7 linked regions of the Homo sapiens genome follow. The protein of the gene in region 1 purifies or fractionates together with the protein of each later gene. This does not show direct contact. Each region holds a gene or a part of one and is shown in the gene's direction. Other genes may lie near its edges. The genes, in order: PAN2, KCTD5, MPRIP, PAWR, MYO5C, IVNS1ABP and ZNF234.

Region 1 (3,500 bases):
TGGTGAAACCCCCGTCTCTACTGAAAATATAAAAATTAGCTGGGTGTGGTGGCAGGTTCCTATAATCCCAGCTACTTGGGAGGCTGAAGCAGGAGAATTGCTTGAACCTGGGAGGCAGAGGTTGCAGTGAGCTGAGATCACACCACTGCACTCCTGCCTGGGTGACAGGGCAAGACTCCGTCTCAAAAAAAAGAAAAAGAAAAATACAATGAGGCCAGGCACAGTGGCACCTGTAATCCCGGCACTTTGATAAGCCAAGGTGGGAGGGTTGCTTGAGCCTAAGAGTTCAATACCAGTCTGGGCAACATAGCAAGACCCCATCTCTATTAAAAGAAAAATACAGGCCGGGCGCGGTGGCTCACGCCTGTAATCCCAGCACTTTGGGAGGCCGAGGCGGGCGGATCACGAGGTCAGGAGATCGAGACCATCCCGGCTAAAACGGTGAAACCCCGTCTCTACTAAAAATACAAAAAATTAGCCGGGCGTAGTGGCGGGCGCCTGTAGTCCCAGCTACTTGGGAGGCTGAGGCAGGAGAATGGCGTGAACCCGGGAGGCGGAGCTTGCAGTGAGCCGAGATCCCGCCACTGCACTCCAGCCTGGGCGACAGAGCGAGACTCCGTCTCAAAAAAAAAAAAAAAAAAAAAAAAGAAAAATACAGTTGAGTAAGGGGGTTGAGGTAATGAAGGGTGGGAAATGTTGCTATTTTGTTTGGTTTTGTAGTGTTTTGTTTTAATTTTAATCTTTTTTCCTAATGGCTCTTTTAGAAACAATGTTGCTACTTTAAATAGTTGGTCAGGAGTTCTCTCTGATAAAGTAACATTTGAATAGAGACTTGGATGCAGCACCAAAAAGGGGAACAAAGAGGCAGAGCTCCATGCCTCTAACTTATCCTTGTGCCTCTCCTTTACTATTCTAGGCCCTCTAGAAGGGAGGGAAGGAGCCATGTAGATATCTGGGGAAGGAACATTCTAGAGAACTTCATATGCTGTGTTAAAAGAGCTTGGACCTTGGACTTGAACCTTCAGGCCACTGAAGGGCTTTTTTTTTTTTTTTTTTTTAGGTGGAATCTCACTCTGTTGCCCAGGTTGGAGTGAAGTGGTGCCATCTCAGCTCACTGCAACCTCTGCCTCCCAGGTTAAAGTAATCCTCCTGCCTCAGCCTCCTGAGTAGCTGGGACTACAGGTGTGTGCCACCATGCTCAGCTAATTTTTGTATTTTTAGTAGAGATGACGTTTCACCATGTTGGCCAGGCTGGTGTCAAACTCCTGGCCTCAAGTGATCCACCTGCCTTGGCCTCCCAAAGTGCTGGGATTACAGTGTGAGCCACAGCACCCAGCCTCAGATTTGGGAAATATTTAGGAAGCAAAATAGGCCAGGTGCGGTGACTGATGCCTGTAATCCTAGAATTTTGGGAGGCCGAGGCAGGTGGATCACCTGAGGTCAGGAGTTCGAAACCAGCCTGGCCAACATGGTGAAACCCCCTTTCTACTAAAAATACAAAAAATTAGCTAGGTGTGGTGGTGCATGCCTGTAATCCTGGCTACTTGGGAGGCAGGAGAATTGCTTGAACCTGGGAGGCAGAGGTTGCAGTGAGCTGAGATCGTGCCATTGCACTCCAGCCTGGGCAACAAGAGTGAAACTCCATCTCAAAAAATAAATACATAAATAAAAATTTTAAAAAATCCTTGGTTATCTAGTGGTTAGGAAAAAAATACATAGGACTTGACTGTCAGATATATGGCTTGGTCAACTAGGTAGATCTTGGTACCATAGAGAATACAGTAAGAAAAATAGAAATAAAAATGGTGAATTTAATTTAGGATGTCATGAGTTTGAGGTTATGATGGGATGTTTAAGGAGGTTTAGTAGTTACCATCATCTTCTTGGTATCCATGTGGGATTGGTTCCAAGATCTAAAGATACCAGATACCAAAATTCAAGGATGCCTAAATCCGTTATAGAAAATGATATAGTATTTGCATATAACCTTATGCACATCCTCCCAGATGTGAAACATAAGAAAGCCAGCTGGCCAGTAGAGAATTGGACCATGTCCCTGACCTTCTATATACTGTTCTAACCAAGTGAGCCATTACCTATTCAGCAGGGTCATTGTGAGGACAAAATGAGGTAGAGTTTACCAAAATGCTGTGTAACACATTAAACAAACATAAGACAGTATTATCAGTGTCTTTATCACTAAGATTGACTGGTTCCTAGCCTTTTGCCCCAGTTGCTCCTAGTCACAAAGGCCAAGCAAGAAAGGATCCAAGCTGAGCCATGTTCAGTCCCTGACCTGGCCGTAGGGTGGCCCTTGCCCCTCCACTCTAAGTGTCTCTGTTGTCTTTGTCCTCTATAGGGCCATGCCACTTCATTTTTTGGCCCAGCCTTGGAGCGCTACTCATCCTTTCAAGTCAATGGCAGTGATGATATTCGGCAGATCCAGAGCCTGGAGAATGGTATCCTTTTTCTCACCAAGAACAACCTCAAGTATATGGCCCGTGGGGGCCTCATTATATTTGATTACCTGTAAGTGGCTTCTCAGCTCTGGACTAGGAACGAGGATGCCTCATAGGGTGGGAAGGCTAAGGGATTGGCAGCTTGTAAGGCCTGGGCCCCTTAGCCTTTCCTCTCCCCACCAGGCTGGATGAGAATGAGGATATGCACAGTCTCCTACTGACTGACAGCAGCACTCTACTCGTTGGTGGGCTGCAGAATCACATAATAGAGATTGATCTTAACACTGTCCAGGAGACTCAGAAGGTACAAGCTTGGGGCAAGAAAGACCTATGTGGGGTCTGAGGTTGTTGCGGGGGCAGGGTATGCTTGGGCTGGTAATGTGCCTGAGATGTGGGTGTGACCTTTCTGTTCCCTTGGTCTGTGGGAAAAATCATTCTTCTCACTGGTTTTTCCTGCTTCCCTCTCCAGTATGCAGTAGAGACGCCTGGAGTCACCATCATGAGACAGACAAATCGCTTCTTCTTCTGCGGCCACACGTCTGGCAAGGTGGCCAAGTTCCATTTCTCCTCCCACTGCAGGGCCCTGTTTCACTAGATACCTGATTGCGATCTGCTTTCCCTTAACTCTGGGGTGTAGTTGGATTGGAGGTGAGGGATGAGTGGAGTGAATTCACTTCCTACTCAGTGATGTTCTACTATGAGATTATTTTGCAGCTTGATGTTTTCTATGATAATGAAGTCTCCCTGAAGCCCCTTCTGGCTCTGGGCTTCTCTGTTTGCCTTTTCTGTGCTTTAACTTTCCCTGTCCTAAAGCCCTAGTTCCTTTGGTAGGGACCCCACTGGGTTAGGTAGGTGGCAGGTATTTTTCCTGATAACAGAATTTGCAGATAACTGAATTTTTTTTTTCTAGGTTTCCCTGAGAGACCTCCGTACTTTTAAGGTGGAACATGAGTTTGATGCCTTCTCAGGAAGTCTGTCAGACTTTGATGTGCATGGCAACCTGCTAGCTGCCTGTGGCTTCTCCAGCCGCCTCACTGGCCT
Region 2 (3,500 bases), on another chromosome or scaffold:
ACTAAGCTTTGAGTCATGTGTGGGGCAGGGACCTCCCAAATTCCAGTTTCTATGCTGGGTGAGGCCGAGAAGCAATGGAAGGGAAGGGTGGTGGGGAGGCAGCAGGCCTGGCGACCAGGGCACAGGGGCCCCACCCTGCTCTCCGAATCTGGCTGCCTTGGACAAGCCTCCTTGGTCTCTGGCCTCAGTTTCCCCATTAGTAATTGGTGACATCAAAGTCCTCTTGTGGGCCAAAGATATGCCACAGCTGCATAAAACAAAACAGAAGAGAGAGTAGAGGTGAAGGTTTTGTGTGCGAAATTGAAACAGAGTCACTTGAAATGGATAATTTCAGAGTAAAAACTAAGTATTTCTAATTAGGTTGATTGCAGATGTTGGTGCACAGGAAATTCTATGCCTTCGCGTCTAGATTTCTGTGGGGCAATTTGACAGAGTTTATCTCCTGGATTGGCTCAGGGCACTGCACCCTCTTGATTTCGTTCCCCTCTGGTGGCACGTGTCTCCGAGCACCGGGAATGACTGAGAGCCGCAGGGCCGACCCTCTTTGCAGAGCTCTGGGAGCTGCGGGAGGGTTGGGCAGCAGCAGGGTTATGTTGGGTTCAGAATCTGGCGTGAGAGCCTGGCAGTCTCCACCCTCATTCCTCACTGCCGTTTTCTTTTCTTTTTTTTTTTTTGAGACAGAGGCTCACTGGATCGCCCAGGCTGGAGTGTAATGCACAATTTTGGCTCACTGCAACGGGGCTGTCAGGTTCAAGTGATTGTCCTGCCTCAGCCTCCCTAGTAGCTGGGATTAGAGGCACCCTCCACCATGCCTGGCTAATTTGTGTATTTTTAGTAGAGACAGGGTTTCACCATGTTGGTCAGGCTGGTGTTGAACTCCTCACCTCAGGTAATCCGCCTGCCTTGGCCTCCCAAAGTGCTGGGATCACAGGCGTAAGCCACTGTGCCCAGCCCTTCACTGCCATTTTCAAGGCTGCTGGTTGCATTAGGGACCTGTCCCTGAGAGGCTGGGGAACCCCCACGTTGCCCCCGGTGCTTTGCTGGGTGACAGCATGGATGGCGGAGAGCTGCAGCCGGAGTCTGGTGAGATGAGCAGAGCGGCCAGTCTTGTTACCACACTTCTCTGAGTGTTGCTCTCCTGACCAGACGTCCATCTGCGGCTGCCCTGTGGACCTGGGGAGTGGGCGAGCAGTCAGCTCTGTCTGCGGAGTCTTCCTCCGTCTGCCAGGGCTGTGTGTGCCCTGGCTCGGCGCTGTCTGCCATGTGCTCCCGTGGCCAGGGTCGCCCTCTCCTCTGTGGTTTGGCAACTGTCCTGCCCGGCCTACGTCCTGTGGCTCCGGCTGAAGCCTGGGACCTCTGGAGATGGGTGGCTCAGCCCAGCCTGCTGGGCCCACTCAATGCCAGCTTGGGCCCGGCCACAAGTAGGTCAGATGCCAATTCAGTGAGACGCGGGGAAGATGAGGGAAATGACTTGTCAATAAAACAGTCTTAATTATGGCTGTTTTAGAAAAAAACCACCACGAACCTTCCTGAGATCAAGCGCAGCCTGTGCTGGTTGTGTAAGCCGTGGAACGTATGAGAAAGCCAGGAAGAAGAGCACCCCCACGCCCAGCCCGCAGCATCTCACTGGCTTCCTGGCCGCCTCTCCTCATCCCAGTCGTAGAGGCGTGAGCGGGCCGGGGCATCTTTCCTTCCTCGTGTCATGGGGGCTTGGGCAGGCGCCGCTGATGGCCTTACGGGCAGCACAGGGGCCCTGCCTAGGTTGGCCCAGACGCTGTTCTAAACCTCCCCGAGGTGACCTTGCTGCCTTTGTCTCCATGAGCCTCGGAGTATATCCTGAATTTTGTATGATTTTGTGTTTCCCATTTTCCCATGTTCCATATTTTTTTGTTGTTTCTGCATCAGGGTGGAGGCTGATCCACATCCCCAACACCAGCAGTGAGCTGCCGAGGCCCTCGCGCCTGGGCTGGGCACTGTCTGGGCCTGGGCTGGCACCACGAGTAGCCCCCGCACACATTAGGCCGATCTGGAACATGTGGGCTCACCCGAGCTGGGAGCACCAAGACCCTGCCTACATGCTTGGAAGCGAGTCAGGCCACAGCGAGACCCGAACCCTGGTGGGATTTGGGGGTCCTGGTTTAAGACCCTGGCACTTCCTATGGATGTGGAAATCTCTCATTGAAAGCTTCAAAGAGAGCAGTGGTGAGAGCAGCACCTCCACACGCCACTGCCTCCCCGCCCTGGTGCGGATGTCCCTGACCTTCCGCTCTGCCCAGACAGGGCCTGTTTCTCGAGGAAACCCACCAGTTAGAAGGAACCCATGGGAAGAAACGGCCGGAGAGCTGTGAGGCCAGCCACAGAAGAGCCAGTTTTGGAATTTCCCACCAAGGGTTCAGCCTACTGCTCGCCCTTCAGCCTCTGGTGCCCGGCGGCTCAGCTGGGTTCTAGGGCCACGCAGGGCTCTGCAGTGTCACTCCGGGAGAGGGCTGTGGGGGCAGCTGCAGGCCCGGCGCGCCGAGTCCACGCAGCCTGGGTAGGTCCTGCATGGGCCCAGAGGTCGTGGGGCTCAGAGAATTGAACCACGTGGGAGGAGTGTACTGTGGCGGGGGCCCCATAGGAAGCCCACTGTCCTGGAGGCACTGGGGCGGCGGGGGTGTGGAGCGGCTGGCAGGTTCTTGGTAGACGCAGCTGGGGTTCTCTGCTCCTCTGCCCTGCAGCCTTGGCTCCCAGCGAGGTTGGCAACAAGCATCTGGACTCCTGGAAGTCTTCCAGAGGCTGCTCCTTTCAAGTCTCTTCCTAACTGGATGCACGTGGGGTCCCCCGCGGTGCCTCAGCCTCCCCTGCCTTTGATGGCTGGGTATTTTGCACCCAGGCTGCTGGCCCCTGAGCACAGGGATGGGCTGGAGCCACAGGCTGCAGGGAAAGCGCATCAGGAAGGTTCCTGGGGCGTGCGGTTCCCACACAGGTGCGTCCGGGGGCTTCCTGGTCCCTCTGTCAGGAGCCTGAGCTCCAGGGACTGAGACGAGCTGGGCAGAGCCTAGCCACTGTGGCCAGAGCTCTCACTGCCAGCAGGATCTCTCTTCAGGCACCCTGGAAAGGTGCCATGGCTCCGGCTGGTAAACTTGGCCTTGCAAAGCTCCACGTCCCTGTGTCTGGATGTGCCCAGCCCTGCTGATACGGTGTCTTTAGGGTGTCGCTTTTCTGGCCAGAAACGTCTCTGGCCGGCAGCACCTTTGTCCAAGTTCCTGTTCTGCGTCCAGGAAGAATGAGGTAGCAGACAAGTGGAGGGTGAGCATGACGAAGAGAAGCTTTACCAAGTGTTGGGACAGTGCAGAGGAGACTGTGGGGGCAGCTCCTCTCTGTAGGCAGGTCGGCTCATTCAGTTGGCAGCTCTCAGCAGAGAAGCGGCCCCGGACTGGCTGGCTCCTCTCCATTGACTTCCCAGCTCTCAGCAGAGAGGGTAGCTTCCCTCTGCAGCTGGTCTTCCACTTGCCAATTGT
Region 3 (3,500 bases), on another chromosome or scaffold:
TAGAACCACACCCCTGAGAGTCGTGGCAAACCTTTCACAACCTGGAAAATGTTGAAAGCAACCATTCCTATTTTTGTTTGTTTTTTATTAAATCTTGCACAAAATCCCCGGCCCCTCTCCTTCCTTCCTTCCTTCCTTCCTCCGCTCGTTCCTTTCTTGGTCTCCAGTAACCCTGGTCTTTTCATAACTGCTCGAGATTGTTGACCTGCAGCCCAGGTTTCAGACTCTGATTGCAAAAAACAAATGAATTCCCCCCAGGAATCATTCAAAATGGGGGAAGGTTTGGGGGTTTGGGTTTTTTTTTTACCTTTTGGAAAAGAAACCGTCACATTGCTTTGGAAAAGGTTGAGAGGAGACCCCTGTTAAGTCAAGAAGAAAGTACAGAGGATGTCAGAATCTGATGAGAACAGCACATTAGTGTTTATTGAGACTCCGATCTTAACTCTCATTTAATTAATCTGAGCTCTGAAAACCTATCTTGCAGCATTTATCTTTAAAAGAGCCTGGTTAAAGTAAACCTATACTAACAATTTTGCTTTTTCTAACAGTTTGAGGAAGACCTTTTTAACCACCACAAAACATTCTATGGCAATTCTTGAAAATCTCTTAAATTGGAGTCTATTATGGCCCCATGAAAACCATTAATCCCATTAAGATAGGGAGTATAAACCCCTGGCTGGTGGAACAGGTTCTGCTACTTTAGGAGCAAGGTGGGGTGTGAGTAGATGGTTTTCATGCCAAGAACATGCTTTCACTTTGTATTCATGCTTGTGTTGGTGTGATGGTCTCTGTGGGTGGGTGGATGCTTTGGGCGTTGAAATCTAGAAATCCTGTTGCTCAGTTTCTAGATGAAGTCATGAGCAAGGCCATCAGTGGAGCTCTGGCCCCGCCCCCAATGTGCAGAAGGGCCGGGAGCAAGGCCTGGAGTTTTCATGTGTTTTCAGACCCAGGTTTAGGTGCTCTCTTCTCACTGAAATAACTAAGTGCTCTCCACTGGCATCGAGCCCTTTCCACAAGTTTTTAAGGCTCTTAACCCACACTTTCACTCCTCTGCTACTAGTCTTCAGTGTTGTTAACAGCAAGAGAAAATTGGGTTTGTTTAAAAATCTACTTCTCTGAGGTGGCACAGTTGCGTAGCTGTAGTCCCAGCTACTCAGGAGGCTGAGGTAGTAGGATTGCTTGAGCCCGGGAGGTCGAGGCTGCAATCAGTCATGATCGTGTCACTGCACTCCAGCCTGGGTGACAAAGCAAGGCCCCATATCAGATATAGATATACTTATCAGACCCCCCCTGACCATTTAGATTGGCAGTGCTTTGAGAAATGCACTATGACCTTTCTGTGTCAATGGGAATATACAGAAGGAACATTCGGGACCCCGCTGTCCCCCACAGCCTCATTGTTGTCTCCAGGACACTGCTGGGTCACACGAATGCTCCAGGACAGACAGGGACCTGGAGTGCATCAGGATCTGACCAGATAGGAGTTTTTGCCTCGTGTCTGGGTGCTACGATTTTGTGCCGTTCTCTGAGGTCCACCACCTGCCCTTCCTGGCATGGTTTCCTTCGTGACCATCCCTGCTGCCCCTGGGGGTGGACCCCACTGGCCCTTCTGCAGACAGCTCCCTGCCTTCTGCCCTCCAGGGGGTTCTGGCCAGAGTCCATGCTTGGAGACAGGATCATCTGCCTTCAGCCCTCACAGTGCTTTAAATTAAAGCAAGTTTGCCCATAGGACAAAAGAGCATTTGATTCCCTTTTTTCTGTCACATATCCCTTGAGGCTGGACTTCAGGAATCCTGGAAAATTAATATGAGTGCAGCATGTGAGGGGTCAGAGACAGGCCAGCAGGGCGTCTGCATTCCTCCCTGCCACAGGTCTCTCCCCAGAGGCTGGTTTAGTGTAGGGTATTGCCAGGAAACGGACTGAGGCTGCTTTGCTAAGAGCTCCTGAAAATGCCCTGGGCCTGTCCTGGCGTTTCTGAAGAGCCCTCATACAGGGACAGCCACCATCTGGGTCAAGGAAGTCTGGGTTCCCTGCTGGTGGGCTCCATCCTGCGATGGAGTGAACCAGGCGAGAAAGGATGACGATGTTCTTCATGTTGCACCTGGACATGCCCCAGGAACAGAGACTTGCCCAGGTGGCAACACTGGCACAGATGTTGACGGCTGCCCAACTGGTGCCACACTGAGCAGGGAGCCTTGTGCTGCACAGGGCTGGGCCCTCTCTCCAGTTTCCTTCCTGCAGGCATCCAAATACCCTGGAAGGGATTTAACCCCTGAATTCCAGAGGGAAGAAAGAAGAACAGTGAAGAAGTAGAACTGGTTTCTGTATGGGGAGAGGAAAGTCTTAGGGACAGCTGCAGGCGGGGTCTCAGGCTGCTCCTTGGCACCAGCTACACAGTAGTGAGCTTTCCCAGCTTTACCGATGAGGAAGAAGTTCAAATAGATAGACTTCAGCATTTTAATTATTTTCCTATAAATGTATTTATGTGTAGTATGCTAGCACCAGCCAGTAAGCTGTGCCACACATATGAATGGGAAAGCGAGGCAGTTGTGCTCGTGTGAGTTTCTGCAGGCTTGTGGGTAATTACCTTGTGTGCACGCCTGCACGTGCAGAATAGTCACTTTCTGCTGGTCAGTTTCTTTATCCACCCATGGTGCCCCAGCCCCAGGCAGGTGTGGAGACCAGCATTTCAGAGGACGCGCTGTCCACAGCCTCCCGGGTCTGAGTGGATCATTGGGCAGGGGTGGAGACAGTGCGCTGCCCTCTGAGCTGGAAGCCTGTGCTTCAGGGAGTCATAATGGGCCTGTGCTAAGTGGGTGATGCAGTGGACATCCCAGGGCGACTAGAGGTGGCAGTATCGCGAATTTGCAGGTTTATTGAACAAGAGGTAACATCGGAGAGGATCTTGCCTTCGGATTCAGCAAGTATGAAGGCAGAAGAGCATGGAGAGCAAGGCCCCACAGCCTGCTTAGTGAGTTGGAAGGCCCAGCAAGAACCTGTTTCTGCAGCAGCCACCAGCTCCCATCACCCCTTGACCCTCCAGCTCATGCTGGAGAAGAGGGAATTTTGGCTGTTTAAAGAACACAGTTGTGAATCTCAGAATGTGCCTGAAAGGAATACTGACAGATAAGGCCGGAAACAAAACTGATGGCTTGAAAAACATTTTTATGGAATGTATTTACTATCATTTTGTTTTACTATAGAGGTAGATGGGACTCTTAACTTTTGGGTACATGGAAACATGCTGAAAACTGAACACAATCCTGATCATCACTCCTGCCTGGCTGTCTCCTGGGAGGCTGCCGGGTGCCACGGAGCTGGGACACAGCAGAGCCCGCTAGGTGTTGCAGGGCCCTGGAGGCCAAGGCCACCCTGTGTGGGGTCCCTGTTGGCAGCCAGGTCCCTACACAAACAAGTAATCCTGTTTGGCCTCCTAGGTTTTGCATATGACCTGCAGCCTAATTTGGGGTGTAGGGGAAGCTCTGCTGGCCCCTGCTCCT
Region 4 (3,500 bases), about 23 Mb from region 1:
CTAAAACTTATGGTGAATTTGTTTTAACCAGATGGTTGTGTGTTTGGGACAAGGATTAATACAGGGAAAAAAGAGCTGGATCATATGCTTTTAAAGCTGGAGAGCGAATACTTAATTTAGTGGCTTTGAATTAATTTTAGCTCTAAAACCTTTCCTTCAAAATGTCGTAGAAAAGTCCAACATACAAATTGATCTGGAGCTGAAAACAAAATTGATCCAGATCAAGATACTCCAGATCCCCTTTTCCGTAGGCCTCAGTTTTGTCACCTCTCCAGAGTGTTATCCCCATTGTACACCTTTAAAGATCAGACAGTGGTAGGAGTGCATCTAGAACTTGTACCTGCACCTTTTGATGACTAATTTGACACAAGGTTGCAACCTAGGGCTCAATACCATATATGGCTTGCATGGGTAGTTTTTTTTTTTGCCTCAGTTTTAGGGAGGGGAAGTGGAGTTTGTTTAGCTAAAAAACTAACTTATTTATGATGATTGAAAATTGGAAGATTCACAATTTTAAAATTCTGACTTTCGGCTTCCTTTGAAAAACTGAAAGATCTGTAAGAGTTGGCCTATACACTTGTTGTAAGAACGAAGAGTCAAGTAATGGATGCTCTTTTTTGGTGGGGCATATTACATCTAAAGTTGTTTTCAGAGCTTGCCCTCATTTCAAAATTAATTGGTTGTATGAATTATTTTTAATGTGTATTAAGTGTTTTCATCTCTCCTCAAATATTTTTAAGTATTTTTAAAGTGTCTTTTTTTTTTCTTAAGGACCTAGATGACATAGAAGATGAAAATGAACAGCTAAAGCAGGAAAATAAAACTCTTTTGAAAGTTGTGGGTCAGCTGACCAGGTAGAGGATTCAAGACTCAATGTGGAAAAAATATTTTAAACTACTGATTGAATGTTAATGGTCAATGCTAGCACAATATTCCTATGCTGCAATACATTAAAATAACTAAGCAAGTATATTTATTTCTAGCAAACAGATGTTTGTTTTCAAAATACTTCTTTTTCATTATTGGTTTTAAAAAAGCATTATCCTTTTATCTCACAAATAAGTAATATCTTTCAGTTATTAAATGATAGATAATGCCTTTTTGGTTTTGTGTGGTATTCAACTAATACATGGTTTAAAGTCACAGCCGTTTGAATATATTTTATCTTGGTAGTACATTTTCTCCCTTAGGAATATACATAGTCTTTGTTTACATGAGTTCAAATACTTTTGGGATGTTACCTTCACATGTCCTATTACTGATGTGTGCAACCTTTTATGTGTTGATGACTCACTCATAAAGGTTTTTGTCTACTGTCATTTGTTCTTTCCACTTATTCTAAGCATTTAGAGTAATAGAGTCATACTTTTTTATAACAGCAACCTTTTAAAAGGAAAGCTCTTATAAAGTCACTGTCATGTTTTAGTTGACTAAATATAAATTTAAGAGAATACTTGAATTGTGCTATAGTAAATAAAAATTTACTATTTTGTGTTTGAATATTGAAAAATTGAATCACTTTAACTCCTGAAAAACATACAATTGTAATTTCAATGTAAAATTTCTTATGTAGGTACTACCTTTTTTTATCGTTCCAAGGTTTGCTAGTGAACACAGGATATTTTAAAAGTTTTTTATTCTTCGGGCCTGGAAAGTGTACAAAGTCAGTGTAGGAGAAAAAAATCCATATTTTTATATTAGCATGCACACTAAAAACCAAAATATTATTCATACTTAAAACATTCATACAAAACAATATGTAAGCAGAAATAGTACTAAAATACTTTGCCTAATTTCTAAGTTGAAGAATAACACTGGGACACAGTTTTTTCATATGAGAGAATATTCCGCTATTTCAAATTTAAGGGATTTTCTTCCTAACATTGAAATTTTAAAAACAGAGTTACTTCTAAATAATTATACAGATTTTTTCTTCTATTAAATATTATTATTTAGAATTGTTTTTGTATTACATATTCATGTTAAGAACCCCGTCTTCCCTTAAAATACATTAAAATTATGACATTTTTGCTTTGTGATTGAATTTCAAATAGCAGTATGGTATCCTTTTATCTAGTTAATATATGAAAGTGGCTTGAATATAGTCAAATCCATTTTAGGTACTCTACTGACTTTTTCCTTCACTTGCCAAGCCCTTTTATTGTTCACTGTTAGAAAAATAGAGAAGGTGAGACAGCTGGGGGAAAATGTGGAGTAAATGATAATCAAATGTTGAATTCTAAAAGTCTCTACATTTACCTAGGTTGGCTTTCTCCCCCAGTTCAGAAGTTTCCAGCTTGGCCAATCATCAGAATCACTTGAGGAACTTAGAAAGAACTCCCTGGCTGTAGCTCCTATGTAGGTTTAGGTTGAGACTCTGGATTCCACAATTTTTAAAGGTTACCATCTGAGGTTTCTGATCATAGTCTACTTTTGAAGCAGCTGCTGCTGTTTCTTTATTCCATTGAACACCCTGGAATTGACATAATTTTATCTATCAGCATTTCTCCCCTTTTAGTTTATTTAATAATTAACCCGGTCTCCAGGGCAGTTTTCATATGACCATGTGTATATTCACTGCTCACGAAAAAGTTTAATGTTAGATTACCAAATTTAATATAGTTACAGAATTACTGCATAAGGGCTTCCCTTCTTGGAGACTCTTACCCAGCATGGGAACAGTGATCTGCCCACATGACAGGGTGGTATGCCAGGCATAGTTAACTGCTTTTGGTTGTGAGGTACTCATCTTCCTTTAGTTACCCTTAGTTATGTGGCACACATGTCCTTATTGCCTAGTTCGTCATCCACACTTTGGATCTTGTGAAAATGCTGTTAGTATCCAACCTTAAAATATATTAGTATATGGGTTTTTATTAAAAGAATTACTTTGAATTTTCTATTTAATTCATATGTAAATAAAGGAACATTTCATTTCACTTAAAAAAATTATATCAGTTATTAGGCTGGGTGCAGTGGCTCATGCCTGTAATCCCAGCACTTTGGGAGGCCAAGGCGGGTGGATTACCAGAGTTCGGGAGTTTGAGACCAGCTTGACCAACATGGAGAAACCCCGTCTCTACTAAAAATACAAAATTAGCCAGGTGTGGTGGCGCATGCCTGTAATCCTGGCTACTCAGGAGGCTGAGGCAGGAGAATCGCTTGAAAACCCAGGAGACAGAGGTTGCGGTGAGCTGAGATTGCGCCATTGTACTCCAGCCTGGGCAAGAAGAGCGAAACTCTGTCTCCAAAAAAAAAAAAAAAAAAATTATTAATACTTTTAAAGACTGAGCTGTTTAAGAATTTTTTGGGGAACATTTCTAGCAGTGATTTTTTTGGCCTTTAATGATAGCGTAAAGACAGGAGCCTTACAACTTAGGCAAAGCATTTCACATGCAGTCCTTCTTCCATCTCAAAATATGTACTTATTTTACATACAGAATTTTACACTAACCATTGAAAAATAAAGTAGGATCTGCTACAGTTTCACCTGAAAATTT
Region 5 (3,500 bases), on another chromosome or scaffold:
TCGTCATACTTCCACCTCCAAGGCAGCACGCACTGGAGCAAACCACGCTCTTGCACAATAACATGGTTTATTCAGTTCTCTGCTGTCTGGGAGTATTAGTGTTCTGTCCACAACAGTAGGACATGCTGATAAACCACAGTCACGGACTGAAACCTTTCATAATAGGTGTTTATGCATGAGGTTAACTTTTCTTCCTATTGAGTAACTTAACAAGGTTGGGCTGCTTTTTACCGTGATGTAAGCAGTAAATTATTTCAGAGCCATGTTTGATCTCTAGCTTTGTTTCCTAGTTCCGCAGCTCTCTGTACTTGCTCATGGAGACCCTCAATGCGACGACGCCCCACTACGTTCGATGCATCAAGCCAAATGATGAGAAGTTACCCTTTGAGTAAGTGTTCTTATGCAACACACAGCGAAGACGTGGGAAGGCAGTTTCTGCCATAAAGTTGGAGAATTTGCTTCCAATTGTCTTGAGATTACCCTGTTTCTGGGTTTTTTTTTAATGATTCAGAACAATGCTGCCCTTTACATAAAATGTTAGCTCAGCCCCTCTGGTTAAACCCCCTCATCTCCAGGGCTAAGCAAAAGGGCTAGATTTGAAAGAATCTTCTACAACTAAAGTTTTTGCAACTTGAACCTTTTACTTGATTAAAAGAAGAATGAGTATGTGTGTTTGTAGAAGGTCATAGAAGGTCAGAACATTTGTCCTCAGACATGATGGCATGAGGCATTATTCTTGTTCTCTGGGACCCATGGAGGAGACCCAAAGCTTGTGAATATAAGGTGTAACAAGTCCCTTGTAGCTTGCTAGAGCTGAAAGAGGTGCCTAAAGGGGGATGAGCTGTCTATGGAGGTGGTGAGTGTGTGTATGGGTCACCAGATGGGTGAGACCTAAGCTGCAGAGCTACCTGTTGGGTGTTCTGTAGAGGAAATTCAAGCATCAGTGGGTGCTTGGGCCAGGCGAGCTAGCATATTTCTTTCCACCTGGTTGTCGTTTGAAGCTCACCTCAAAGGCCAGTTCCCCCATGGCCTTCTCAATGCCACCTCCATCAGAGTCAGCTGCTCCTTTCTCTATATCCCACTGCATCTTTATGGACTGTTTTGCAGAGGTGCTATTTTTCTTGGTCATGCAATAGAAACTTATTAAGTATCTGCTGGGTACCTGGCATAGGGTCACAGTCTAGCCAGGTCTGCTGTGCCTGTTTATGGGCATGTTGAGCAATTACGATGCCTCAACACATAATATCATTGTCTTTTTAAAGATTTGACTCCAAAAGAATTGTTCAGCAGCTGCGAGCCTGCGGCGTTTTAGAAACGATTCGCATTAGTGCACAGAGCTACCCTTCCAGGTATGTTGTCCGTCCTTGTCTTGGAGGGAAAAGTACCTGACATCAGAGCTATGCTGAGAACCAAGGACATGGCTGCCATGATTTTTGTCACATACTTTTGGCTTCTGTAAAGTGCCCCCAAGATTTTCCCACTGCCCTGTGGAAGTCCAGAAGAGGTTGAGAAATAGGCTTTGTAGGGGTCGGAGGTCAACACCACCTTCTCACCCCATCACTGCATCTCGGCTGCTGGTGGTGGCCCCACCGCCTCCCCCGTGTACTAGGGAAGACGCTGAGTGGGAGAAAGAGCACAATTGCTGGGGCAGACAGGAGTGCTCAGGGTGGTCTTGGTAGTGTCCCAGGCAGGCAGGGTATCAAAGATCAGTGCCTTTATCCTCAGGACAGATTGCACCACCCCCGCCCTATGACAACAGTGGCAGGTAAGGCAGCGGAGTCCCCAGACACAATGTGCTTCCTCTGACACTCCTGGCTTTGATCCCCTTTGATTTTCCAGGTGGACATACATCGAGTTCTACAGTCGCTACGGCATTCTCATGACCAAGCAAGAGCTTTCCTTCAGCGATAAAAAGGAGGTGTGCAAGGTGGTTTTACACAGACTCATCCAGGTCAGTTTCCCCACCTCCTGGGATCATGGTCTCCTTCCTGGAAGCACATCTCCCAAACATGCTGTTTCATCTTTGTCTTGAATGCTCAGGACTGTAATCATGAACACCTGAAAGGAAAGAAAATGTGCCCTGAGCATTTGTCTGCTGAAGAGACCATAGCAGAGTGCTCAGTGGGCCATGAGTCCCCGTTAGGGACCCACATCCGAACTCCGGCCTCCCCAGTGTCCTCGTATCCTGTTTAGCTCTCCCACGATCTAACCCAGTCCTCTGTGGACCAGGCTTATAGGATATGGTCAACTGGGGTTGTCACCAAGCCACATGGGCTCCAGGCATGGTGCCTTGTGTGGATTGACATCATTGCTGCAGCGATGAGTTGTGATGGGAAAGAGATGGGGAGTTATAAGGTCCAGCAAAGGGGATGGTGAAGAGAACCCAAAATGGAGACAGAAAACCAAACTTCCCCAGTTTCTTCTACTCCAATGTGGAGACCACGAGAGAGTGGCTGAAGTTCTCTGGCAGCCCAACTGAGAATCGCCGCAAATGACACTCACTCCCCTTCTCACCCACAAATGGATTCCTCAGCCTAAGTCCCATTTCTTCCTCCAGGGTAATTTTAAACAAACAACTCAAAGTATACATTTCTAGATCATGATGTGAGTTTTCTGCCTTAAATGTCAAAATCACAATATTTCTGGCACCTTTGAATCCCTAAAGCTCTTTTCCAAATACTGTATTATAGAAAATCTGACAGATTTTAATTCTAACTATATCATTTTTCTCTTCCAGGATTCTAATCAGTACCAGTTTGGTAAAACCAAAATTTTCTTCAGAGCAGGACAAGTGGCTTATTTAGAGAAACTTCGATTGGATAAACTGAGGCAGAGTTGTGTTATGGTACAAAAGCACATGCGTGGCTGGCTCCAGAGGAAAAAATTCCTCCGAGAGAGACGAGCCGCCCTGATAATCCAGCAGTACTTCCGGGGTCAGCAAACTGTGAGGTATGTTGGAATCAAGGAACACATGTGGAACTGTGGGGCTTTCTGTGCTGATCATCTCCGGCGGGGAGGACTCATCAAGGACAAGGGACCTTTCTCCTGTGACCCAGGGTGCAGACGTGCATGGGTCCCCTTTGTGGTCGTGAGCATTAGGGCAAGAAAGGTCCGTCTCTCAGGGGCAGGTAGTGCTGGCTCTGCCTGGTGTCTGTGTGGTGAGCCGACACCCAGGGCCCTGCAGGGAGGAAGCGCTGGTGAGAGTGTTACTAAGGAGAGTCAGGGTTCCGGAAGCTCAGGGAGAGGCCCGGGGCCCCTTTCCTATGGGAACTGAAAATGCATAAGATCAGCAAGGCCCTAGTGAAGATCCAAAGGACAGATGTCAAGAATAGCCAGCGACCAGCCTGCCAGCAACAGGTGGGGTGCACCATGGCAGAGGGGGTCCCTGCAAGGCCTGGCAGCAAACCAATCACAGAACCCCTAAGCAGGAAGACCACAGCAGCCCCAGCCAAGCCAAGGGCTGAGGGGAGGGTGGTCCACCAGCTGCGCTGATCCTACCT
Region 6 (2,178 bases), on another chromosome or scaffold:
AATTGAGAACTAACCGTTGTAATGCAGGTAATAATAGTTTTCTCCTGAGATATCCAGTATTTAAATATGATAATTAAATTATCAATATGTAACTTTATTTTATACTTACATAGGAGTGTGTGCTCTGAATGGAAAGTTATACATCGTTGGTGGCTCTGATCCATATGGTCAAAAAGGACTGAAAAATTGTGATGTATTTGATCCTGTAACAAAGTTGTGGACAAGCTGTGCCCCTCTTAACATTCGTAAGTTGATTTTTTTTCCTTTTTTTTTTTAAAGACCTTCAAATCAACAGTATGTGTAGTATACACTTAGAGTCTGGGAGATGTAGCAATAATCTTGACTTGACTTTTCTTGTAGGGAGACACCAGTCTGCAGTCTGTGAGCTTGGTGGTTATTTGTACATAATCGGAGGTGCAGAATCTTGGAATTGTCTGAACACAGTAGAACGATACAATCCTGAAAATAATACCTGGACTTTAATTGCACCCATGAATGTGGCTAGGCGAGGAGCTGGAGTGGCTGTTCTTAATGGTGAGTGTTGGGATTTGGAGAGGTGAAGAGTAGATAGTGGCAAGACTTTGTTCTAAAACTCTGAGAGAAAAGGCCAATGACTATAGTTGTACAGTTAAGAATTCAGAAGCAGTCATCTCTTTTGATGCAATGGAGATTAGGGTGATTTGTCCTTTAGAAATATATTTTCTAATCAAAGACTTATAATACTTGATATATAACTTAATTCACCAGTCTTTTGATGGGTGCACTGAGTGAATTTCCAAGTCATTTTCTTCTATAAAACATATCCTTAATGCATCATCTTGAATTTTGAGTTTCCCCTTCTTTACAGCCAGAATTTAAAGAATCTGATCTGCAAAACAAAGGCAAATCCCTAGTCTTTTCCAACTGTCTACTCCATACCTAATTGGAAATACAACCTTTAGACTATTTTAACAAGTTTCCAAAGTATTAAACTTTTTAAATGTAGACATAGCTTTCTTTCCACCTCCATTTTATTGACTTTTAATGTCTAATTATATAATCATAATTTAAAAGTTAGCATTGTTTTTGGTACCAGGCTGAACCTTAGCAGGCTTATGGCTCAACTGGTGAAGGCTTAAGTGTAGACACAGCCTGTTGGCCTAGAGCATTGTCAGCGTGCTTTACAGATACATAGAATGCAAGCTGGTTAAGTGATGGTCAAATGAAAAAATAATGAATTTGAGAATCAGTAATAAAATTTTTTCTAAGCTACGGAGTATTTATTGCTAACATTTTATCTATTTGAAAATAATCATAACTCTGTTTCCAGAAGAAATTTCTGTACCACAATCATTTTATTTTTTTAATTGAGACATGGTCTCACTGTGTTGCCCAGGCTGGTCTCGAACCCCTGGGCTCATGCAGTCCTCCCACCTCAGGCTCCCATAGTATTGGGATTATAGGCATGAGCCACCGCATCTGGCCCCAAAATCATTTTATACAGTTGGAAAGCCCTAAGATATTTTTCTGCTTTCCTATAATCTCTTCTGAGTCTTAATTCTGTACATTGGGCTGATATAAAGTCCAGTGCACAGAACTATTCTGGTTTGCTACTTAGTAGCTGCATCTGTAGGATAATTGTCCAGCTTCTTCCTGCTTTTCTTCTTCTCTGAAATAATAATAGTAACTACCACAGAGTTGGTGAAAATTGTACTTATTTAGATGCTGCTACTGCTTCCTCTCCCTCCCCCTTTTAAGTTGCCTAAGTTCCACGTGGGAATGGTTTTTTTATTGATTTGATTCCCAGCTCTTAGAGAGTATTTGTCATATTAGGCATTTAATAAATTCTTTTTGACAAAATGAACAGGCATTTCTATTTTTAAAACCACTGATTTTTAAGCAAAAGACAGATTTAGGGGAGTTTTACCTTATTACACTTTAATCTCTGGATTTACCCCATCTCATTTCTCTTTTAGGAAAACTGTTTGTATGTGGTGGCTTTGATGGTTCTCATGCCATCAGTTGTGTGGAAATGTATGATCCAACTAGAAATGAATGGAAGATGATGGGAAATATGACTTCACCAAGGAGCAATGCTGGGATTGCAACTGTAGGGAACACCATTTATGCAGTGGGAGGATTCGATGGCAATGAATTTCTGAATACGGTGGAAGTCTATAACCTTGAGTCAAATGAATG
Region 7 (3,500 bases), on another chromosome or scaffold:
CTAATGTTTCTTAGGTACTTAGTCTGCGCCATACACTATTCCAAATGCTATATGTAGTTTCTTTTTCAACGTTTGAAAGAACTCTGTCATGTAAGAACTATCATACCAAGATGAAACTAGGTGAACTTATCCAAGATCACACAACTTTGAAGGGTACCCTTGTGTGCACTGAGGCATGATGGCTCCAGATCATGACACTAAATGCTGCAGGTAATGCTGGTGCTGTGTGCCCTGGGTGTACAGAAGGAAAACTACATAGCAGTTTTAGATATGTTACCAAAAGCTTGTTAGTTTGGCAGACTTTAATGAAAAGGGATAGCATCCAGCGTTCCTATGTGAGAGAGGAGGAAGGTGGGTGTTATCATGTATGTTGGTTCTGACTTGCTAAATGTTTCTGGGGCAATTGGTAATATTTACCGAAAGGTGAAACCCGTGTGGCTCAGGATGCGTCATTTAGAGTTCTAGATGGTTACTTACAAATAGACTCAGTGAAGCCACAAAGGAATTGAAGGCTATTGTTACTGATGTACTTTTACTGACACTAAGGAAAATCAAAGTGTGGCATTGGTAAGATGGAAGGAGAAGGGCTGAGAAATCTACACATTAAGTCTCTGAAAATCTGGACCAGCTCCCCCTACATACTCTCCACTTTCTCAGTGCTGTTTCTTTTCAAGAGTTTGTTAAAAAGGCTGAAGTAAGGTGTGTTTGATGTTATAGGAGGGACTGACCTTCAAGGATGTGGCTGTGGTCTTCACTGAGGAGGAGCTGGGGCTGCTGGACCCTGTCCAGAGGAATCTGTACCAAGATGTGATGCTGGAGAACTTCAGGAACCTGCTGTCAGTGGGTGAGGACATGAGCTTTCTAACACTCAATGTCAGTCTCTTGGAGTGATTTTGTGTCTTCAGGGGTTCAACACTTTGGAGGTCTTGAATTAGTCGCCTACATTTGTAGACCTGACTTTCCTATCAGTAGTTTTTAGTGAAATAAAATGAGATAGAAATATCAGAGTTCACTAAAATTAATGGAATACATAGCAAATAAAACTGGTAAATTGCATGAGTGGTGTGAGAACTTGTGGGAGGAGATTTAATGAAAATAAACGGGGGCCAGGCACAGTGGCTCACGCCTGCAATCCCAGCACCTTGGGAGGCTGAGGCAGGTGGATCACCTGAGGTCGGGAGTTCGAGACCAGCCTGGCCAACATGATGAAACTCTATCTCTACCAAAAAATAAAAAATACAAAAATTAACCAGGTGTGGTGGTGCATGCCTCTTATCCCACCTACTTGGGAGGCTGAGGCATGAGAATCGCTTGAATCCAGGAGGCAGAGGTTGTAGTGAGCCTAGATCACGCCACTGCACTCCAGCCTGGGTGACAGAGTGAGACTGTCTCAAAAAAAAAAGACATTGGTTAGAAATGTAATTTTAGTAATGCACCAAGATGTAACAGTTTTTCTGTTGTTTGAGATAACACCTGGAGTTTTTTGTTTTATTTTTAAGAAGATTAATGAGTGCAGACAGAAATGTGAGGTTAGAGTGAAGGTTTAATAAGCAAAAGAAGAAAGCTTTTTGCCAGCAGAGAGGGGGACCCAAATGGAATTCCCCCTATGAGGCAGGGGTTTGGGGTTTTTATGGACTGGGAAGGGGAAGGAATGTGCTTAGTTTGTGGGCTATTTTGGAGAAAGTGTGACTTAGCTTGGCCCGGAACCTTGGCCCAGGACCAATCAGGTTGAAGTAAAGATATATAGAGACCGGACTTACAGTTTGAAAAAAAGAAAGTAGAGTGCCCACTGGAACCCACTGGAGCCCACTGTACCTATGCCCACAAAAGGAGAAGAAACCTTTTCCTGGGAGCCCGCTGACTATACAGAGGACAAAGGCATTCTTATGCCAGGCCTTGCTCCTTTATCTGAGCGAGCTGGAGGTATGTACAAGCTTTTATCCAAATGGGCTGGAGGTTTTTCTATCTGTGCAGCCGTGGGCATGTCTCCAGGCACAACACCCTGTGGTAGTTCCCTTATTGGTGCCTGCAGCTTAAATTTTTTTTCCAGGCTGCTTTTTATGTTATATAAAAATAAGACACTAACCCATGGGTCAGGGGCTCTCCAAAGACCCTTCCCTTGCTGTCTACCTAAGGCAAGCGAACTAACTCCTTTCAGAAATAGGTTTTTATAGCACATATTTATGTCTATGTGTCTGGATCTTGAAATACTGATATTTCTTCATTAGGTTCTTCTAAAAGTGTTTGAAAACACTACTTTTGATTGATTGATCAGTATACAGTAGTAATTCAAATTGCCAGTAAGTTCAGTTGTACCTTTAGTGTGTTTGTTTTAAATATGTGACTTTGCGTGTTCTAGGGCATCACCCCTTCAAACATGATGTATTCCTTTTAGAAAAGGAAAAAAAGCTTGATATAATGAAGACAGCAACTCAAAGAAAAGGGAAATCAGGTAAGAACCAAGCAGCTAAGAGTCCTTGTACGTGATTGTCCATCTGTTGTACTTCTCTCCCCTGCTCTTGCTGCCATCGGGTCCAAATTGCCAAACCTCTGTCCTGGATGATTGCAACAGCCTTCGTACTGGGCGCACTGCATCCACCCTCAATAGTATAAAGTATGTTCTCCTACAGGCGTTCTCCATATCATAGCTAAAGTGATCCTTTGGAAATGTAAGTCAGATTGCCATTCCTCTACTTAAGACCTTGTACAGGGCTGGGCACAGTGGCTCATGCCTGTAATCCAGCACTTTGGGGGCCAAAGCAGGAGGATCAGGAGTTTGAGACCAGCCTGGCTAACATGGCAAAACCTCGTCTCTACTAAAAATACAAAAATTAGCCAGGCGTGGTGGCCAGCGCCTGTAGTCCCAGCTACTCAGGAAGCTTAGACAGGAGAATCGCTTGAACCCAAGAGGCAGGTTGCAGTGAGCCAAGATCGCACCGCTACACTCCAGCCTGGGCAACAGAGCGACACTCCATCTTAAAAAAAAAAAAAATACTCTGAATGGCTTCTTATTTTTCTTAAAGTTGAAGTCTCTTAAAGGAGCTTATAGAGTCCTGCGTGGTCTGCTGTTCATCCTCCTCTGCGTCTCTGACTACATCTCCTGTATTCTACCTCTTGCTCCATCTTTTCCAGCCACATCATCCTCCCTGCTATTTCCCAGACCTGGTAAGGACATTGCTCGCTCTGTCGCCCAGGCTGGAGTATAGTGGTGCAATCTCAGCTCACTGCCACCTCCGCCTCCCAGGTTCAAGCGATTCTTCTGCCTCAGCCTCCCAAGTAGCTGGGATTACAGGTGCCTGTAACCACGTCCGGCGGATTTTTGTATTTTTTATAGAGACAGGGTTTCACCATGTTGGCCAGGCTGGTCTCCTGACCTCAAGTGACCCGCCTGCCTCAGCCTCCCAAAGTGCTGGGATTACAGGCATGAGCCACTGTGCCCGACCTGGACACTGCATTTCTTACTGCTGCTGTAACATATTACCCCAAACTGAGTGGATTAA

The links.
Region 2: the proteins of PAN2 (region 1) and KCTD5 purify together in Homo sapiens (affinity purification with mass spectrometry, with the first as the bait; one large-scale study listed by BioGRID). This does not show direct contact.
Region 3: the proteins of PAN2 (region 1) and MPRIP purify together in Homo sapiens (affinity purification with mass spectrometry, with the first as the bait; one large-scale study listed by BioGRID). This does not show direct contact.
Region 4: the proteins of PAN2 (region 1) and PAWR purify together in Homo sapiens (affinity purification with mass spectrometry, with the first as the bait; one large-scale study listed by BioGRID). This does not show direct contact.
Region 5: the proteins of PAN2 (region 1) and MYO5C purify together in Homo sapiens (affinity purification with mass spectrometry, with the first as the bait; one large-scale study listed by BioGRID). This does not show direct contact.
Region 6: the proteins of PAN2 (region 1) and IVNS1ABP purify together in Homo sapiens (affinity purification with mass spectrometry, with the first as the bait; one large-scale study listed by BioGRID). This does not show direct contact.
Region 7: the proteins of PAN2 (region 1) and ZNF234 purify together in Homo sapiens (affinity purification with mass spectrometry, with the first as the bait; one large-scale study listed by BioGRID). This does not show direct contact.

What each region holds. Positions count from the first base shown.
Region 1 is NC_000012.12:56,327,501-56,331,000, reverse strand, and holds part of PAN2 (PAN2-PAN3 deadenylation complex catalytic subunit PAN2), read left to right. Parts: intron 1-2,359; coding exon 2,360-2,529; intron 2,530-2,642; coding exon 2,643-2,763; intron 2,764-2,928; coding exon 2,929-3,006; intron 3,007-3,369; coding exon 3,370-3,500. UniProt on the Homo sapiens protein: Catalytic subunit of the poly(A)-nuclease (PAN) deadenylation complex, one of two cytoplasmic mRNA deadenylases involved in general and miRNA-mediated mRNA turnover.
Region 2 is NC_000016.10:2,689,023-2,692,522, forward strand, and holds part of KCTD5 (BTB/POZ domain-containing protein KCTD5), read left to right. Parts: intron 1-3,500. UniProt on the Homo sapiens protein: Its interaction with CUL3 suggests that it may act as a substrate adapter in some E3 ligase complex. Does not affect the function of Kv channel Kv2.1/KCNB1, Kv1.2/KCNA2, Kv4.2/KCND2 and Kv3.4/KCNC4.
Region 3 is NC_000017.11:17,185,457-17,188,956, forward strand, and holds part of MPRIP (myosin phosphatase Rho-interacting protein), read left to right. Parts: 3' UTR 1-3,500. UniProt on the Homo sapiens protein: Targets myosin phosphatase to the actin cytoskeleton. Required for the regulation of the actin cytoskeleton by RhoA and ROCK1.
Region 4 is NC_000012.12:79,589,965-79,593,464, reverse strand, and holds part of PAWR (PRKC apoptosis WT1 regulator protein), read left to right. Parts: intron 1-771; coding exon 772-858; 3' UTR 859-3,500. UniProt on the Homo sapiens protein: Pro-apoptotic protein capable of selectively inducing apoptosis in cancer cells, sensitizing the cells to diverse apoptotic stimuli and causing regression of tumors in animal models.
Region 5 is NC_000015.10:52,243,805-52,247,304, reverse strand, and holds part of MYO5C (unconventional myosin-Vc), read left to right. Parts: intron 1-290; coding exon 291-388; intron 389-1,262; coding exon 1,263-1,349; intron 1,350-1,839; coding exon 1,840-1,951; intron 1,952-2,737; coding exon 2,738-2,949; intron 2,950-3,500. UniProt on the Homo sapiens protein: May be involved in transferrin trafficking. Likely to power actin-based membrane trafficking in many physiologically crucial tissues.
Region 6 is NC_000001.11:185,298,066-185,300,243, reverse strand, and holds part of IVNS1ABP (influenza virus NS1A-binding protein), read left to right. Parts: coding exon 1-27; intron 28-113; coding exon 114-245; intron 246-360; coding exon 361-534; intron 535-1,955; coding exon 1,956-2,178. UniProt on the Homo sapiens protein: Involved in many cell functions, including pre-mRNA splicing, the aryl hydrocarbon receptor (AHR) pathway, F-actin organization and protein ubiquitination.
Region 7 is NC_000019.10:44,148,054-44,151,553, forward strand, and holds part of ZNF234 (zinc finger protein 234), read left to right. Parts: intron 1-717; coding exon 718-844; intron 845-2,359; coding exon 2,360-2,452; intron 2,453-3,500.